2 separate regions of the Homo sapiens genome follow, and region 1 is linked to region 2. Evidence: fine-mapped expression QTL. A gene starts in region 2. The other region holds a variant in brackets. All regions are shown on one strand. Distances are between the middles of the regions. Region 1 overlaps RNPEP (arginyl aminopeptidase). Region 2 holds the start of ELF3-AS1 (ELF3 antisense RNA 1).

What was found.
Region 1: its variant is fine-mapped to the expression of ELF3-AS1 in monocytes after Pam3CSK4 (Quach 2016, PIP 0.95).

The regions. Positions count from the first base shown.
Region 1 is chr1:201,983,049-201,991,906 of GRCh38, forward strand. It overlaps RNPEP (arginyl aminopeptidase), which reads left to right. Exons shown (of 11, transcript NM_020216.4): 1 at 1-65; 2 at 5,856-5,996; 3 at 6,335-6,483. Among named protein-coding and RNA genes, the nearest start is that of RNPEP, 4.8 kb to the left of the region's middle. RefSeq lists silencers at 1-185, 2,902-3,076 and an enhancer at 6,651-8,858. The variant G/A (reference allele first, on the strand shown) is at 3,438.
Region 2 is chr1:202,003,747-202,014,749 of GRCh38, forward strand. ELF3-AS1 (ELF3 antisense RNA 1) reads right to left here and starts at 6,607. Exons shown (of 2, transcript NR_146472.1): 1 at 6,054-6,607. RNPEP (arginyl aminopeptidase) reads left to right here. Exons shown (of 11, transcript NM_020216.4): 10 at 608-750; 11 at 1,812-2,397. The coding sequence ends at 1,970. ELF3 (E74 like ETS transcription factor 3) reads left to right here and starts at 6,841. Exons shown (of 9, transcript NM_004433.5): 1 at 6,841-6,960; 2 at 7,383-7,553; 3 at 8,211-8,432; 4 at 8,598-8,690; 5 at 8,894-9,013; 6 at 9,201-9,290; 7 at 9,436-9,552; 8 at 10,083-10,278. The coding sequence starts at 7,391. RefSeq lists enhancers at 586-1,228, 4,439-5,080, 6,807-7,740, 7,741-8,675, 9,485-10,684.

The sequences.
Region 1 (8,858 bases), 22 kb before region 2:
AGCCCTGCCGCGCCGCCGAGCGCCTCCAGGTGCTGCTCACCTACCGCGTCGGGGAGGGACCCGGGGTGAGTGCGCCCCAGACTGCGCCCGCCGCTGCCTGCCTGCCCTTCCGGCCCCCAGCCGCCCTGCACCCTCACCTACCCCACCCGGGAGGAGGGACAGGGAGGACCCTTCCAGAGCGTCCCTAGAGGGGCCTACTCCCCGCGCGCCGCCTCTAGGCCTCCTCCCCTTGCTTCCTCTTTTCCTCCCGGGCTGCCTGGTTTCCTTCTGGACTTCCTCCAGCCACTGGGCGGTGCATCCTTCACCCTTTCCGTCCTTCCGCGTCTCCTCCCTGGCCCTGGAGGCTTGTCCAGATTGCGCCGCATTCCCGCTCATCGCACACTGCCGTTTCTAACATTTTCCGTGGCTTTCTAGATGACCTGTTGTTCATGCACTTCACTTAGTGCCCTCTTGGACTTTTGGGCCGAGGTACCTGATTATCAGCCACCTTATCTCTGCTTTATGGTGGCTCTAGAATTAGCCAGATGTTGATCTAGCTCTTTGTTCTGTGTTGCCTTCTAGTTCCACGGTTAAAGCTCTTATCTTTGTTTTTGTTTCCTCCTGTGAAGTCCTGGATTTGATTAACGAAAGAATTTGAGTAAAAGTGAGAACTGGAATTAGGGTGCTATAAGCATTATAATAATTTGGCCTTCTCACTGTTGGTTAACTCTTTAATTTTTTTTCGGGACGGGGCAAATATTGGAAATAAGAGGATGGAGTTATGTGGCTTATGTCTGTAAGAGTCAGAAAATCCTTCCTGGAGAGTCCTTAGGCTGTGGCTGCCAGTTATCTCTCAGGTAGAGTTGGTTGCAAGTTTCATAGTAAACTGCTTGCTTACAGTTTAATCTTTTATTTATTTATTTGAGGCAGAGTCTCACTCTCGTCCAGGCTGGAGTGCAGTGGCAAGATCTCGGCTCACTGCAACCTCTGCGTCGTGGGTTCGAGCGATTCTCGTACCTCACCCTCCCTAGTAGCTGGGACTACAGGCGTGCGCCACCACACCCGGCTAATTTTTGTATTGTTTAGTAGAGACAAAATTTCACCATTTTGGTCAGGCTGGTCTCGAACTCCTGACCTCGTGATCCGCCTGCCTCGGCGGCCTCCCAAAGTGCTGGGATTACAGGCGTGAGCCACTGCGCCCGGCCCACAGCTTGGTTTTATACATTAGGGAGACATGATACATCAGTCAGTATATGTAAGAAGTACATTGGTTGGGTCTGAAAAGGTGGGACAACTTGCAGCAAAGGCAGGAAGACTTGAAGCGGCTTCCGGATCACAGATAGGTGATACACAAATGGTTACATTCTTTTGAGTTTCTGATGAGCCTTTCCAAAGGAAGCAAATCAGATATGCATCCATCTCAGTGAGCAGAGTAGTGGCTTTGAATAGAATGGGAGGCAGGTGTGCCCTAAGCGGTTCCCAGGTTGAGTTTTCTTTAGTGATTTTGGGGGCCCAAGAGATTTTCCTTTCACAGCCTGATAACACCACTGCACTCCAGCCTGAGCAACAGAGTGCGACCCTGTTTTAACAACAACAACAAAAAAGCAAAGATGATGAGTAAGCAATTTTGGTGGAGGGGGGATGATGGCTAATATTTAATAAGATGAGCCAGGCACTAGTCTAAGTGCTTGACATAGGTTAAATGAGTTGTCTTTCCATAAGTGGTTAATATGGTGCGTGGTACATGGTAAGTAAGCTGTGTTAGCTCTTACTGCTAACTTTTGTATTTCTTTCTTTTTTTTTTTTTTTTTTTTTTTTTTTTTTTTTTTTGAGAAGGGATCAAAAAGCTCCCTACATTGTTCTTTTTAAAAATCTCGTTTCCAGGCTGGGTGTGGTGGCTCACATCTGTAATCCCAGCACTTTGGGAGGCCAGGGCTGGCAGATCACCTGAGGTCAGGAGTTTGAGACCAGCCTGGCCAACATGGTGAAACCCTACCTCCACTAAAAATACAAAAATTAGCTGGTTGTGGTGGCTCACACCTGTAAACCCAGCTACCTGGGAGCCTGAGGCAGGAGGATCGCTTGAATCTGGGACACAGAGGTTGCAGTGAGCTGAGATCATGCCATTGCATTCCAGCCTGGGTGACACAGCGAGGCTCCATCTAAAAAAAAAAAAAAAAAATACTCATTTCCTAGCTGATCAGTAAAAACATCACTGACTGATGGCATTCAATGATCAGTCAATTGATCAATTCTTATTGACTGGTATAGTGGCACCATCTCAGCTCACTGCAGCCTTGACCTCCCTGGCTCAAGTGATCCTCCCACCTTAGCCTCCTGAGTAGCTGGGGTAGCTGGGACCAACCACAGACCTGCCACCTCCACACTTGGCTAATTTTTGTTATTTTTTGTAGAGATGGGGTTTTGCCATGTTGCCCACGCTGGTCTTGAACTCCTGGGTTCAAGCCATCTGCCCGCTTTGGCATCCCAAAGTGCTGGGACTACAAGCATGAGCCAACATGCCTGGCTTAATTGAGCAGCCAGTTCAGAGAGTTCCCATATACAGTTCAGTACCTCCTACATACACATATACACACAGATTCCCCTCTTGCTACCATTTTGCATTAGTATGACACATTTGTTACAATTAAACAATGCTGATATATTATTAACCAAGATTGAATCATTTTACATTAGTATAATAATATATTTGTTATAATTAATAAACCAGTACCGATACTGGAGTCCATAGTTTTTTCAGATTCCCTTAGTTTTTACTTAATGTCTTTTTCTGTTCCAGGAAGCCATCCAGAATTCCACATTATATTTAGCTGTCATGTATCCTCTTGGGACTGTGACAGTTTCTCAAACTTTCCTTGTTTTTGATATAACTTTGACAGTTTGTTTGTTTTTTGAGACAGGGTCTTGCTCTGTCATCCAGGCCGTAGTGCAGTGAGTGGCACAATCATGGCTCACTGCAGCCTTGATCCCCCTGGTTCAAGTGATCCTCCTGCCTCAGCCCAAGTAGCTGGGACTACAGGCGCATACAACTGCGCCCAGCTAATTTTTTGAATTTATTATTTGTAGAGATGAGGTCTCACTGTGTTATCCAGGCTTGTCTCAAACGCTTGGGCTCAAACAAACAATTCTCCCATCTTGGCCTCCCAAAGAAAGTGCTAGAATTACAGGCATGAGCCACTGCTCCCAGCCAGTTTTTTGTTTTTTATTTTTTTATTTTTATTTTTTCTGTAGAGACAGGGTCCCCCTATGTTGCCCAGGCTGGTCTCAAACTCCTGGCCTCAAGCGATCCTCCTGCCTTGACCTCCCGAAGTGCTGGCATTACAGGTGTGAGCCACTGAGCCCAGCCAACCTTGACAGTTTTGAGGAGTGTTGGCCAGGTATAGCGTAGGATGACCCTGTATTGGAATTTATCTGATGTTTTCTCATGATTAGATTGG[G/A]ATTATGGGTTTTGAGGGGCAATTCACAGAGGTAAAGTGCCATTTTCTTTCTTTTTTTTTTTTTTTTTTCTTGAAATGGAGTTTCACTCTTGTTACCCAGGCTGGACTGCAGTGGTGTGATCTCGGCTCACTGCAACCTCCGCCTCCCTGGTTCAAGCGATTCTCCTCCCTCAGCCTCCGAAGTAGCTGGGACTATAGGCATATGCCACCACCCTGGTTAATTTTTGTATTTTTAGTAGACACAGGGTTTCACTGTGTTGGCCAGGCTGGTCTTGAACTCCCGACCTCAGGTGATCCACCAGCCTCGGCCTCCCAAAGTGCTGGGATTACAGGTGTGAGCCACTGCGCCCAGCCAAAGTGCCATTTTCATCAGGTATTGAGGGCGCATAGTATCCACATGATTTATGACTGTCAGCGTTAACCTCGGTCCCCTGGCTGAAGCAGTGATTATCAGCTTTCTCCACTGTGAAGTTATTCTCTCATCCCTTTCTATACTGCACTGTACCTGTTATAAGGAGACTAATTAAATTTTTCACACACAAAAACTCAAACCCAGCATCCCAACGTAGCTTCCTTATGCCTCTTAAAATAGGTCTCAGACACTGCTGTGTTCAGAACCCTTCATTAGACTTGCCCAGGCCTGCCTCCCCAACTCTGCATCTGGAGCCTGCATCTGTTTATGCCTCTCCTCATGTTGCTGCTCGTCTCCTTGTGAATGTCTCCTCCCTTCCTTTCCAGCCATCTCAATCCTGCGTGTCTTTGAAGGTCCAGCCAGAAAGTTTTCTTCCCCTATGAAATCATCCTGGAGTAATCGAATCCATTTCTAAATTCTAAATGCTATTTGTTACTGACCTATGCTCCATCCTGCCCCTCTTCCAGGTAAATGAATGGCTGTTTGCTATAGGCAAAAACTGGGTTTTGTGATAAATCATTCAGATTTTACTTTTTTTTTTTTTTTTTTTTTTTTTTTGAGGCAGAGTCTCGCTCTGTCACCCAGGCTGGAGTGCAGTGGCATGATCTCAGCTCACTGCAACATCTGCCTCCTGGGTTCAAGCAATTCTCCTGCCTCAGCCTCCTGAGTAGCTAGAATTACAGGTGCATGCCATCACACCCGGCTAATTTTTGTATTTTTAGTAGCAACAGGGTTTTACCATGTTATCCAGGCAGGTCACGAACGCCTGACCTCAAGTGATCCACCTGCGTCGGACTCCCAAAGTGCTGGGATTACAGGCGTGAGCCACTGCACCCAACCCAGATTTGCCCTTTGTTTAAGAGCTAACAGAACACAGATAAAGAATCATATAACCAGTGCCTATTATATAAAATACCTTTCTTCTGAAAAGGTAAATTTTAGGAACAGAAAACACATATTAGGCCAGGTGCAGTGGCTCATGCCTGTAATCCCAGCACTTTGGGAAGCTGAGGCGGGCAGATCACCTGAGGTCAGGAGTTCAAGACCAGCCTGACCAACATGATGAAACCCCGTCTCTACTAAAAATACAAAATTAGTCGGATGTGGTGGTGCATGCCTATAATCCCAGCTACTTGGGAGGCTGAGGCAGGAGACTCGCTTGAACCCAGGAGGCGGAGACTGCAGTGAGCTGAGATCACACCATTGCACTCCAGCCTGGGCGACAAGAGTGAAACTCTATCTCGAAAAAAAAAAAAGAAAAGAAAAGAGAATGTATATTAGGCTGAGCATGATGGCTTATGCCTGTATTCCCAGCACTTTGGGAGACTGAGGTGGGCGGGTTGCTTGAGGCCAGGAGTTGGAGACCAGCCTGGCCAACATGGTGAAACCCTATCTTTACAATACAAAAATTAGCTGGACTTGGTGGTGCACGCGCCTGTGGTCCCAGCTACTTGGGAGGCTGAGGCATGAGAATTGCTTGAACCTGGGAGGTCGAGGTTGCAGTGAGCCGAGATTGCACCACTGTACTCCAGCCTGGGCGACAGAGCGATACTCTGTCTCAAAAAAAAAAAAAAAAAAAAAAAAAACATATTAATCACTGACTCCCAGTTGAGTTCTGCTTTTCTGTGTCTTATCACAAGTCCAAATGCAGTTGCTTCAGTAGTTTTTTGTTTGATGAGAAACTACTACAGTGAAAAGGACACAGATAGGGTACAGATGACAAGATCAGAGGCTCGGTCCAAGGTCTCTGAGATGACCCATGGGATGCAGTGAGGAATGGACCCTTTCTGGTGGCTCTGCCCTGTGAAGTGGATGTCATACTTTGGCATGGATTCCAGGATGAACTAAATACACAGAGGAGAGAGCTTTCTAGTTCAAACCAGACTGGCTGGCGGAAAGGTTTTAAGGATTACCTAAAATTCTCTCATTCCAGCCAGCTCACTTCTCTGGCCAGACTGAGCTCGTGTGGGAGATGTCAGTTCTGAAATGTTCTTCTTTTCGCTTAGGTTTGCTGGTTGGCTCCCGAGCAGACAGCAGGAAAGAAGAAGCCCTTCGTGTACACCCAGGGCCAGGCTGTCCTAAACCGGGCCTTCTTCCCTTGCTTCGACACGCCTGCTGTTAAATACAAGTATTCAGCTCTTATTGAGGTAAGGAGACTAAGGTTAGGTGCACCTGCCCTTGGGATGAAGAAATGATTTCAGATCTATCAATCAGGTCACGTTTCAGTGGTAAATTATTATATCCATTCAGTGGTACTTCTGAAAAATTGCTTACTTTTAAATTCTTCCACCTACTGAAGTTGTATGTAGCCTTCCTCTAAATCCCATCAGTTGAGCACAGATTTAGTTTCTTGAAACCTTTGTGTTCTCCAAGATAGACTCCAGGCCATTATCATCACACACAGGTGGCCGGTCATGCTCTTATTCAAACTAATCAAAAGGAAACTCTCTCCAGGTAAAATCTCCTAAGCTTTCTCTGTTGTCAGGTCCCAGATGGCTTCACAGCTGTGATGAGTGCTAGCACCTGGGAGAAGAGAGGTCCAAATAAGTTCTTCTTCCAGATGTGTCAGCCCATCCCCTCCTATCTGATAGCTTTGGCCATCGGAGATCTGGTTTCGGCTGAAGTTGGACCCAGGTAGGAGACAAAGACCCCACAGGCAAGGTTGGATTGGCCTCAGAGGTGAGGAGGACTCTGACCAGTGGACCTGCTGGGGGGGTTCTTGGGCAGTCTTGGATCCTCTGTCTGAGTCCAGAGCCTTTCTGCAGCTCATGCAGCATGAGCACAGCTGGAGGAAGTGCTCTTTTTCTCCCTGCCTTTCTCACTCCCTCTCTCCAGTTCTAATCCTGCTGCCTGGAATGAGATCATCATCCCTGCTAGCAGTAGCGCTGTCCTGGGCTGCCTTACAGAGGGATGTTGGAATTTAGGCTGCAGTTTTGGGAAATGGATTTTTTTTTTTTTTTGAGATGGAGTCTTGCTGTGTTGCCCAGGCTGGACTGGAGTGCAATGGTGCGATCTTGGCTCACTGCAACCTCTGCCTCCTGGGTTCAAGCGATTCTCCTGCCCCAGCCTCCCAAGTAACTGGGACTGCAGGCATGCCCCACCACGCTCGGCTAATTTTTGTATTTTTCGTAGAGACGGGGTTTCACCATGTTGGCCAGGCTGCTCTTGAACTCCTGACCTCAGGTGATTCACCCGCCTTGGCCTCCCAAAGTGCTGGGATTACAGGCATGAGCCATCATGCCCGGCCTGGGAAATGGATCTTTATTAATATCTTTAAGTTCTAAATGCCCTTCTAGCAGCTATATCCACTTTCCTATCTTTGTACCAAATCTTCCCCATTTTCTTTTGCACGTAGTTCCTGGAAATAACAACTTTGGTATCATTTCCCTCGAAGAGGGAAGTGGACTCTCCTTCCTATCTGCAGCAGATGCATGAGTCTAAGCCTACGGTGAGAGCAATGCCTCCGTGAAGTTACATGGATCTTGTGAAGATAAAAAGGGATTTTGTAAGGTTTCCTGATAAAAGAGGTTTGACCAGGAGTATAGGTTTTTCCTGGCTCTCATATTACCTCCACCATAGCTTAGTCCCAATGTGGGAGCATCACAGGCTGGACGGTGAAGCCGTGACCTTTTCCTGGCACTGTTGCTGTTCTTTATCTCTGGCCCTGCTCCCAGTTCCTAGAGGCAGTGGTGTCCTTGACAACATTAGTTACGAGCCTCAGACTTCATAACTGGGCTCAGTGGCACTGCTGGTATCATGAGTCTTAGTTTCTGGTTATCAGTTGGAATAATAAATGGGATTCCATTGGCATCTGCTCCCAGCGCACACATTCAAAACAATACCAGTCTGGAAAGACAAAGTGCCCTCCTCTTACGAAGGGCTGTCTTCCTAATAGGCAGGGCGGGAAATAACCAAAAGGATGTCATCTTTGCAATAGACAAGCAAGTAGATAAGTAAAGGAACGTCGTTTCCAAGAATACCCTTACTAAGGTTCTACTTGTAAGAGTATGAACTATTAATGGGAAATGAGAGAACAATAGATTCTAAAGATACTGAGTGATAATGATTTCTTTTTATACTGCCTGTAATAAAATGACAACATGGTATATCGAACTAGGTGACAGAATCCACTTAACTGGTGGTAATGCCTTATTCCTTCCGTGATTAAATGGACAGTTCTTGCCTCCTGGGTCACATCGTAGGGTCTTGTGGGGGGTTATTTATTTATTATTTTTGAGATGGCGTCTTGCTCTGTTGCCCAGGCTGGAGTGCAGTGGCGCGATCTTGGCTCACCACAACCTCCGCCTCCTGGGTTCAAGTGATTCTCCTGCCTCAGCCTCCCAAGTAGCTGGGACTACAGGTGTGTGCCACCATTTCTGGCTAATTTTCATATTTTTAATAGAGACAGGGTTTCACTATGTTGGCCAGGCTAGTCTTGAACTCCTGACCTCGTGATCCATCCACCTCGGCCTCCCAAAGTGCTCGATTACAGGCATGAGCCACCACGCCGGGCCGTGGGGGTTTATTAAATCGGAGGGTCTTCTGGCAAGGTATGCCACCTATCCCAGTCCCTGTTACTGCAAGAGGAAAATCCTGGGCAGAGGGGAATTATGGGTATATCCCAGTAGGCCCTTTTATGTATAATCTCTTCTAATCCTTACACAGACTCCATGAGGATGATACTTTCTACATTTTAAAAATAAGCAAACCAAGGCTGTGGTGAGTGGCTTGTGCAGGACCACTAGTTGGCAAAACTGGAATTAAAATTCAGGTATTTCCATTGCAAATCCAGTGCTCTTTGCAATATACTACAGGTAGTGAGATTGCAGCTTGACTGAGAGCATCCTGATTTATTTTGACAGAAATGTGTGTCCTGGTGGAGGTATCTTGGATGACTGTCTTAAACCTTCTAGTTGTAACAAGCTGAAGTCCACTGGGCTGAAGGACTGTGGTAATTTTGACATCCAAGGTGGTGGTAGAACAATTCACAAAGTAATTCCTTGAAGATA
Region 2 (11,003 bases):
GAAGCTCCTGCAGGCGACTCTTGTAAGGCTTTTGTGTCTATTAAGTCATTTAATTCCCACAACTCCTCTGGGAAGTAGGCGGTGTGATGTTAATACCCAGGTGACAGAATGAACTTGAGGTACAAACAGTTCGCACAGAACCCAGTCATCCAGAGCTCTCAACCTCTAATGCTTTGTGGCTGCTCAGTCAACATAATATTCACCAAGGGGTTAAAAAAAAGTTAGAGCCAAGATGACTTTTAGCAGATGAGTGGTAGGAGAAAAAATGGGACAGATATTGGGGGAATATGTCTGCTTTAATCTTGCTCTGTCGACCAGGCTGGAGTGCCGTGGTGCTATTGGCTCACAGCAACCTCCACCTTCTGAGTTCAAGTGATTCTTGATTCTAGCACCTCAGCCTCCAAGTAGCTGGGATTACAGGCGTGCGCCACCACACCCGGCCAGTTTTGTTTGGTATTTTTAGTAGAGATGGGGTTTCGCCATATTGGCCAGGCTGGTCTCACATTCCTGACCTCAAGTGATCCGCCCACCTCAGCCTCCCAAAATTCTAGTATTACAGGTGTGACCCACCGTGACCAGCCACAAACCATTTCTTTCTCTTCTCCAGGGAATGTGAAAAAACTTGGAGACACATACCCAAGTATCTCAAATGCCCGGAATGCAGAGCTCCGGCTGCGATGGGGCCAAATCGTCCTTAAGAACGACCACCAGGAAGATTTCTGGAAAGTGAAGGAGTTCCTGCATAACCAGGTGGGTGACCCCTGCCTCGCTGTTCCCGAAAGCACACTGGGACCCACTCGGCCATATGTGAAGTAATCATGTGGGCAGGGCTCATCTAGGACTCATCTGAGGCACAGAGGGAGGGGCAAATGACCTGAGGACCCTACCACTCAGCCTCTTTACTAGTGTGGCTTTGAAGGCATTGCCCTAGGGACAAGAGGAGGCCTGCAGGCTTGCAGTGCTTTCTGCAATTCAGCTGGTGAGACCCCAGGGAAAAAAGCTGGCCAGAGCCAACGCAGAGGCGGGAAAGAGGGTGACAGTGTCATGTGGGAAACACAAGAGGGAAAGGGGCCAGAGGCGGAGCAAGAGGAACAAAGGCTTGGAGGATAGGTCCCTGCTGCCCTGTGACTTGGGCATGATCGGGACAGCAGCCAGACCCTCTGTCACTATGTGAAAGTTGCCCTGTTGGGGAAAGGCCCCGGGCTCTCAGGATGAACTGAATGTCATCAGATTCCGGAGCAGGGAGGGGCTGGACCGGAGACGAAGCATTGCTCTGCATAAAGTCAGGGCTGCCTGCCTGTTCGGGGATATTCTGAGCCCTTTGATGGCTTCCTCAAGGCTCTGGATTTTAGGAACTTGTGATGTCGCTGGCTTATATTTGTGTGAATTTGACCTGTGGGTTGACCTGTGGGTTTTCCTTTGCTTGACTGCAGCTGGACCGTATGCGGCTGTGAGCTTTATGTGCCGCAGCTGCTGATATCTGCTATTCACGTGGTGGCTCACCACCTACACCTTTCCAGAAGTCTGGAATCCCATTGTGTCCACCCAACTCATTCATTTTGTTGACTGTAGACGTCCCCATGTTAGTATGGATTGGGACGCGTATTGAGATCCATCTCCATGGATCTCTGGCGCCCAAGAAGATGCCTGAATTAGAGCACTTCTGATGAGAAGCTCCTCATTCCAGCTGTGATGCCCACATCCCTTTTAGCACCTAGCCATGGCTGCTGTTAGACTGGCACTGGGGGCAGCAGGGCTGGACAGATCCACCAGGCAAGCTTCTTAGGCATGTGTATGTGTGTTTCTTGCAGGGGAAGCAGAAGTATACACTTCCGCTGTACCACGCAATGATGGGTGGCAGTGAGGTGGCCCAGACCCTCGCCAAGGAGACTTTTGCATCCACCGCCTCCCAGCTCCACAGCAATGTTGTCAACTATGTCCAGCAGATCGTGGCACCCAAGGGCAGTTAGAGGCTCGTGTGCATGGCCCCTGCCTCTTCAGGCTCTCCAGGCTTTCAGAATAATTGTTTGTTCCCAAATTCCTGTTCCCTGATCAACTTCCTGGAGTTTATATCCCCTCAGGATAATCTATTCTCTAGCTTAGGTATCTGTGACTCTTGGGCCTCTGCTCTGGTGGGAACTTACTTCTCTATAGCCCACTGAGCCCCGAGACAGAGAACCTGCCCACAGCTCTCCCCGCTACAGGCTGCAGGCACTGCAGGGCAGCGGGTATTCTCCTCCCCACCTAAGTCTCTGGGAAGAAGTGGAGAGGACTGATGCTCTTCTTTTTTCTCTTTCTGTCCTTTTTCTTGCTGATTTTATGCAAAGGGCTGGCATTCTGATTGTTCTTTTTTCAGGTTTAATCCTTATTTTAATAAAGTTTTCAAGCAAAAATTAAGTTACGGATTGAGTGACTATTAAATTTCTTCCACCAGAGGTCCTCACTGTGTTTGTTCAGGAAAGGTCACTGGGGGAGGCCCAGAGAATGACAGTATTTTCCTGTCCTCAGGGAACAGCCAGGGTGAAGGAGGTGGGTGTCCTACACATGCATATGAAAAAAAATATGGCAAAATGGCACAGCTGGTGCAGGAAAATGAAAAAGGAATAGCATTCCAGTTCTCCGTGAAGCAGCTGAATTCTCTATCTGCAGCAGCATTCCCATTATCTTTTCCATCACTAAGAAAAAAAAATGGGCTGGGCACGGTGGCTCATGCCTGTAATCCCAGCACTTTGGGAGGCTGAGGCGAGAGGATCGCTTGAGCCCAGGAGTTTGAGACCACCCTGGCCAACATAGCAGGACTTCATCTCTACCAAAAAAAAAAAAAAAAAAAAAAAAAAGCCAGGCGTGGTGGCTCACGCCTGTAATCTCAACACTTTGGGAGGCTGAGGCAGGCAAATCACTTGAGGTCAGAAGTTTGAGACCAGCATGGCCAACATGGTGAAACCCCATCTCTACTGAAAAAAAAGATAGATGCAAAAATTAGCCAGGCATGGTGGCTCACACCTGTAGTTCCAGTTACTTGGGAGGCTGAAGCAGGAGAAACACTTGAACCTGGGAGGTGGAGGTTGCAGTAAACTGAGATCATGCCACTGCACTCCAGCCTGGGTGACAGAGTAAGACTTCTCAAAAAAAAAAAAAAAAAGCTGGGCGTGGTGGTGCATTCCTGTGGTTTCAGCTACTCAGGAGGCTGAGGCAGGAGGATCACTTGAGCCCAAGAGGTCAAGGCCACAGTGAGTCTTGATTGTGCCACTGAACTCCAGCCTGAGTGACAGAGTGAGACCCTGTCTCAAAAATAAAAATAAAGTGTCTTATGACTTTTTATCTACCCTTCTGCCCATGCCCAAGGCTTCACTGGGCCTCACCTGTCTTTGATCCTAGATAACTATTTGAATGGTAATCAGTAAAGTCTTTAGAACTTAGCACTAAATTCTGATTTCCTGGCCTCAACATGGGGACCTAAACAGTTAGCAATCTGGGTTTGGGAGTGGGATGAGGGGAGGGTTGGAAGAAATATTTAGTGTGTTTCATTTGCCTTTCTTAAATACAGGGCACCCCTGAAACAGGCTTTGTTCGCAGCTCTGCTCTGTCCTCGGATTTAGGTTATCGAACAGGCTTCCTCCCTCCCCTGCACAAGGGTTGGGAATGAGTCGATTTGCTTTCACTCAGCAAGAGCAAGGGACTAGTGGTGACCAAGTGGTAGACTGGAGAGGCCTCTGCCCCGTGGCACACAGCTCCACCATCAGAGAGGGTGATGTGGGTCATAGGTGAGGGATCTGGAGGCCCGGTATCGGAAGAGCTTCTCCAGGCACTGGCATTTTGACAGCAAACTGCTTCCGTGGCTCTTTCAGGACTGTTCCTGGCAATATGTTATTGGCAAGGACTATTTTAGGGCTATCCAGTTGTCTCCCCCTCTCCCCAACCTTTTATCTAGCTTATCAGTAGCTATCTTTCCTTGCTCTGTACAAAAACCTATAGCACCAATAGGCCCAGTAATCATGAAGGGTCAGTGCAAGGAAAGGCTGGAAGCCCTTCCTCTAACAGCCGTGCTGTGACTCCACTAACTTTGTGGGGTCTCCCATTACATAGCGTGGGTATCCTGAGCTGTGCAGCCTGCCTCACTCACCACCTTGGTACCTGACAGGACTACTGGATGTGCCTGTCCTTTTGTAGGACATTCTCCCATCCCAAAGATGAGGCTGTGCTGCCGTGTGGGCAAGCTCTGTGGGGAGAGGGGAGGCCAGTGGGTTGTTTTTGCCATCACAGAATACTGGGAAGCCCCTGGCATCCTGCTCCATAGCTCTCTTCACCACTATCCTGGAACCTTCTCCCCACCCCCATCCCCATGCCTCCAAGGCACTGACCTCAAATCCAAGTCTTTCTCACTTATCTCAAGCTGCCAGCCTGTAGGGATTCCTTATCTCAGCTCCATGTCAGCGGTGAGGAAGCCCCAAGAAGGCAAGGGAGCTGACAGCCTTCTCATTTTTCTCGTACATCCTCCTGTTCACCCCGCCATCCCGGGAGCCCCAGCCAGATGCTCTTCAGGGCAGGGAGCACGTGAGCAGCCCTGGGGCTAGAAGCCGGTTCTCCCACATTCCTGGGTGAGGGACTGGGTGGAGGGTGTGCCTGCCTCAGGCTCCTTGGGGGAGGCCCCCTGAAGGGCTGGGGAAAATCCTACTGAGCCCCAGGCTCTCCTGCCTGCACTGGCCCAGTGCGGGGGCGGGGGGGCGGGGGGATCCTGGACATTAACTCTCTCCTAGGCACCTGGGAGCTTCAGAGAGGAAGAAGGTAAGGTAAGAAGCAGATTCTCTGCGCAGGACTTTCTTAGTCCTCAGGCTATAGAGTTAAAGAAAGAAGTATCTGTAGAAGGTGGAGTCACCTTTTGTTTGAGTAACCGTTTCACCCACCCTGGCTGAGGGTGGCCAGGAACTCCCCAAGTTGTGCATTAATGGAGGGGGGTCACACAGATCCTACATTTTTTTGTTTTTGTTTTTTTTTTTTTGAGACGCAGTGATTACAGGTGTGAGCCACCGGATCCTACATTTCAAATGCATAAAAATCTAGATATGGGCTGGGCGCAGTAGCTCATGCCTGTAATCCCAGCACTTTGGGAGGCTGAGGCAGGCAGATCATGAGGTCAGGAGATCGAGTCCATCCTGGCTAACATGGTGAAACCCCGTCTCTACTAAAAATACAGAAAGCCGGGCATGGCAGCGGGCGCCTGTAATCCCAGCTACTCGGAAAGCTGAGGCAGGAGAATCGCTTGAACCCAGGAGTCAGAGGTTGCAGTGAGCAGAGATCACGCCACTGCACTCCAACCTGGGCGACAGAGCGAGACTCCACCTCAAAACAAAATAAACAAAATACTAGATCTGGAAGAGATCTTAGGGATTATTAAATTCAGACAACCTCATTTTTTATAGATGGGGAAACAAGCACAGACTCCAAGGGTCTCATCCAAGATCACACAGTTGCAGATGCTGGCTACAAGTCTCCTGCCTCAACCACCTGTATTACCCCATTCAGGGTCTCAAGAAGGGTCTATAAGACACTATCCATTGTGTTTCGGGCTGAGTCCATAGAGACAACCACAGACATGGGGGACTCTGCCCACAGGGAAGGCAAGGGCTCTGGCCATGGAGCTGGATGGGAAGACTCTGAAGCCCGAAGACATTGAATCCTGTGCAGGGAAAGAGCGAGGGTTTTGTGTACAACACACCTGCATACCTGGATGTGAATCTCAGCTCCACCCCTTCACCAACTCTGTGTGGCCTGGGCAAGCCATTCTAAGGGAACCCTCCACACTGCAACTTTCATGTCTATAAAATGGGAATAACCATGCATTCCTTACAGGACTTTTTTGGTGTGAGGATTAAATGAGAGAATATGTTGAAAAGTGCTTGGTAAATATATTAATACTATGCATTCCCTCTTCTTTGAATGACGTGACCCAGGTAGTCAGGCTTCTGACCACTAGAGGGCAGCAGAAGGTACTGGAAAACTGGGCCGAGTGAACCAGAGATTAGATGGGGTCCAGAGAGCAGGGATGAACTTACCCGTGTGGATTCTGGCAACTCCGGCAGGGAGGGCTCCAGCAGGCGCTGAGGGAAGAACTTTCAAGCAGAGCCGGGTCTCTTCAGGAGCGACTGCAGCAACCCTGATGCTTGGATGGAGTCCAGGCAGGTGATGGTAGTGAAGACCTTGCCAACAGAGTGGGCGCTGGAGAAGGAGCCCTTTAGTGGGGACCCTGGGGCCACGACTAGGCTGGCAGGCCCAGCCAGCACCAATTAATCCATGAGTATTGCCCAGCATTGAGCCTGGAGCACCTTCCAGCCCCTGGCCAGAGTCCTGGGTGTTCTGGGAAAAACCCCTAAACCTAGTAACTCCTCTCCCTACTAGGCCTCTTTGTTGCTGAATCTCTGGAATTTAGGGGCCAGCAGCTTTCTGACTCAGGTCAGCCAGGGGTTCATGTTCCCTCACTTGCCCTCCCCCTGCCTGGCCCATCTCTGGCCTGGCCCCTGGGAGGAATTTCCTGGGCCAGAGGGCAGCCGAAAGCACAGATGCCCACCCCAGCAACGTTCCCGCCACCTGCCCAGGCCAGTGCCCCGTGCCCAACCCCAGAGGGTGCGGGATGACAGACTCTGACAATCATTAAACCAGCCGGGCCTGATTTCCCAGCACTGCCTGCTAAGATCCGGGCCAAGTGGCACTGAATATGCAAATCACCTGGGGCCAGGAGCCCAGTCTAAAGGCCAGGAAATCCCCTCCATCCAATGAGACACCAGCTCAGGTTACTGCAGGGGACACACTATAAAGCCCTGAGCTCAGGGAGGAGCTCCCTCCAGGCTCTATTTAGAGCCGGGTAGGGGAGCGCAGCGGCCAGATACCTCAGCGCTACCTGGCGGAACTGGATTTCTCTCCCGCCTGCCGGCCTGCCTGCCACAGCCGGACTCCGCCACTCCGGTAGGATTCCCCGCCTGTCATTCCCTAGCCCAGCTCTTGGGAAACTGCAGAGGGGTCCAGAGGATTTGCAGTTCTGAACCTGCACACTCCAGTCTAGGATCTCCGAGCAAGAGCGTAGGTGTCCTGAGGGTCAAAGAACAGAGAGAGATTGTCTCTGGGAAGGCAGAATGGCCATGACGCCGCTAGTCTGGCTCCAGGGCCCCAGAGATCTGAGGAGGGAAGCCCAGCTGGAGGCTCCTGTGGTCCTGCCCTGGTCTGAGATCTTGGAGCCCTTCTTGAAGAGACGGTGTCCGCAGAGTTGCTGATCTTCCTGCCCCTGGGGGCTACTCTTGCCCAGGGTTGGGCAAAGCAGAGTAGCTGGGAGTGTAAGGAGAGGACCCTCGTCCCCTCACCAACCTCATCCTCTCTCCCCCTACCCACAGGTAGCCTCATGGCTGCAACCTGTGAGATTAGCAACATTTTTAGCAACTACTTCAGTGCGATGTACAGCTCGGAGGACTCCACCCTGGCCTCTGTTCCCCCTGCTGCCACCTTTGGGGCCGATGACTTGGTACTGACCCTGAGCAACCCCCAGATGTCATTGGAGGGTACAGGTGGGTCTCAGCGGGGTGGGATGGGGCACGGAGTGGGAGACAGATCCATCTAAGGGCCTGTTAGACAAATGGGGGAATAGGCAGGGAGGAGGGTCTCTAGGCAAATTCCAGGGCTAGAGGCTGAGACTTAGTGACTGAGGTGCTGGGGGTTGTGGGGCTGTGACAGGCAGAGGGAGGTGTCAGATACCAGGACAAGGGTGTTGTGAATGCTACCTCCTGCCCCTACTCTTGGGATGGCTCCAAGGGCTGAGGTGTGAATCCCCAGTGTGCTCCAGGAATGGGGCTGTGTGGGCTGGGAGTGGTGGCTCACGCCTGTAATCCCAGCACTTTGGGAGGCTGAGCTGAGCGGATCACCTGAGGTCAAGAGTTCGAGACCAGCCTAGCCAACATGGTGAAACCCCGTCTCTACTAAAAATACAAAAAAAAATTTATCCCAGCGTGGTGGTGGGCACCTATAATCCCAGCTACTGGGGAGGCTGACGCAGGAGTATCGCTTGAACCTGGGAGGTGGAGGTTGCTGTGAGCCGAGATTGTGCCATTGCACCCCAGCCTAGGTGACAGGAGTGAGACTCCATCTCAAAAAAAAAAAAAAAAATGGGGCTGTAAGGTCTGCTGGGTGGCCTGAGCTGAGCCTGTTTCCCTGCCTGGCCCTTGCAGAGAAGGCCAGCTGGTTGGGGGAACAGCCCCAGTTCTGGTCGAAGACGCAGGTTCTGGACTGGATCAGCTACCAAGTGGAGAAGAACAAGTACGACGCAAGCGCCATTGACTTCTCACGATGTGACATGGATGGCGCCACCCTCTGCAATTGTGCCCTTGAGGAGCTGCGTCTGGTCTTTGGGCCTCTGGGGGACCAACTCCATGCCCAGCTGCGAGACCTCAGTGAGTCCAGGCCCCTGGAGGCTGGGGAGCAGCTCCACATGTTGAGCTGAGTCGAGTTCAGTGTGGCCGTAGGCAGGCCCTGGAGCTCTGGGCCAGCTGCACAGCCAGAGAGAGCCCTTGAGGGAGGGATTAGGGGAGTGTGACCCTTCCTTCCTTCCTTGTCAGCTTCCAGCTCTTCTGATGAGCTCAGTTGGATCATTGAGCTGCTGGAGAAGGATGGCATGGCCTTCCAGGAGGCCCTAGACCCAGGGCCCTTTGGTGAGAACCCGTTTTCTCCTTCCTTCCCCAGCCTGTCTTGTCCCATCCCTGCCCCTCCACAGAGTGCTAGAGATGACCCCCTCCCCAGACTTCTTCCTCCCTCAATTAGAAAAATTGCAGCAGGTCATCAGACCCATGGGCAGCATCACCTGTCCTGGTCTGGTCCCCTGAGCCCTCTCTGAGTTCTCACCTCCTCTTCCCAGACCAGGGCAGCCCCTTTGCCCAGGAGCTGCTGGACGACGGTCAGCAAGCCAGCCCCTACCACCCCGGCAGCTGTGGCGCAGGAGCCCCCTCCCCTGGCAGCTCTGACGTCTCCACCGCAGGTGAGAGCTCTCTCTGGGCCACAACCTCCCTTCCCCGAAGTGTCCCTTGTTCCCTCTGGCTCCCAGCACCATAACTCAGGCCTTCTGGCAGGAACAGGAACAGGCTGGGAAGTGTGTCCTGAGAGCCAGCAGCGTGGTTGAGCAGAGGGTGGGCCGGCAGGGGACTTACTCTGACCCCGCCCCCCAGGGACTGGTGCTTCTCGGAGCTCCCACTCCTCAGACTCCGGTGGAAGTGACGTGGACCTGGATCCCACTGATGGCAAGCTCTTCCCCAGCGGTGAGTCGAGGGAGGTCCCCAAGAGGGCGTCCCATTTAGCAATGCACAGGGGGCCCGGCTCTTCCTGCAGCCTTTTCCTGTAGAGGGGCTACTCTCCCTAACTCCCCTCTTGCCCCTCCTTGACCTTCCACCACCGTCCCCACAGATGGTTTTCGTGACTGCAAGAAGGGGGATCCCAAGCACGGGAAGCGGAAACGAGGCCGGCCCCGAAAGCTGAGCAAAGAGTACTGGGACTGTCTCGAGGGCAAGAAGAGCAAGCACGGTGAGCTCCGGGGGCACGTGGGTCCTCCCTGCGCCGGGCTGAGCGGCTTCCTGGGGCACTGCGGGTTGTTGCAGGTATCCCTTCTCCCGTTTTCTCTGGCCTCCGCATGGCCTTTGGTAAGGCTGTGCACAAGCTGGGGGCTCTATGGTATCGGTCACCACCTAATTGCAGAGCCTGGCTTGGTGGTCCTGGAGAGGAGGAGGAAATAAGGCTCCCAGTGGGAGGCTCATGGTACCAGAGTCCTGTCCACTGACTCCAGTGTCCTGTCCACTGACTCCAGTTCTCTCTGCACTTGGCCACTGTCCTGCCCTCTGGGACACCCTCAATGTGAGGAGGCAGCTGGTGGGTCTTAGGTGGGCTGAGGAGAAAAGCAGTCACTGCAGTACCCGCACAGAGGGCACTGCGGGGTCTCTGGAGAGGCTTGCTGCATGCTGTGGCCAAGTCAGCAGTGCACTGGGGCGGGCAGGGCTGGCTGGCCTTGGGTGAGAGGGGACACCTGGATGGCAAACTGATGGAGGCTGGCCTTGCAGCGCCCAGAGGCACCCACCTGTGGGAGTTCATCCGGGACATCCTCATCCACCCGGAGCTCAACGAGGGCCTCATGAAGTGGGAGAATCGGCATGAAGGCGTCTTCAAGTTCCTGCGCTCCGAGGCTGTGGCCCAACTATGGGGCCAAAAGAAAAAGAACAGCAACATGACCTACGAGAAGCTGAGCCGGGCCATGAGGTGAGCTGGCGGCCAGGACCCTCACGATACAGCCGGACATGGGGACAGGCGCTCACACTCCCACCGCCCTCTTTCTGGCTGCCACTTGGCTTCTTGCAACAGGGCTGAGTCCTTAGAGTGAGGACAACATCTGGGTTGGTCTACTTCATGGATTAAATGACAACATGGAGAAAGTATTAGCCTGGCAGACAGCAGACACAGTGCACTTGAGCTAGCAGCAACATTTCTTGTATCGCCTGTGAGGCTTGTCCTCAGGAAGGCACCTGGAGAGTGGGAAAGGGGGCAGGAGCCGTGCCCACCCAGGGCCTGGCTTTCTCCTCGTTGAAGCACTTAGGTTGTTTTTCTCTGGGCCTCAGTTTCCTCCTGTGTCCAGGAGTACACTAGATCATCTTAAGATCCCGTCCAGCCCTAAAATCATGTACTTACTTTTTTTTTCTTTTTCTTTTTTAAATAGAGGCAAGGGTCTCTACGTTGGCCAGGCCGGTCTCAAACTCCTGGCCTCAAATGACTCTCCTGCCTCGGCCTCTCAAAGTGCTGGGATTACAGGTGTGAGCCAGTATGCTTGGCCTTTTCTTTTTTCTTCTTCTTCTTTTTATTTTTCGAGACAGGGTCTCGCTCTGTCACCCAGGCTAGAGTGCAGTGGCACAATCTTGGCTCGCTACAACCTCTGCCTGCCGGGTTCAAGTGATTCTTGTGCCTCAGCCTCCAAGTAGCTGGGATTACAG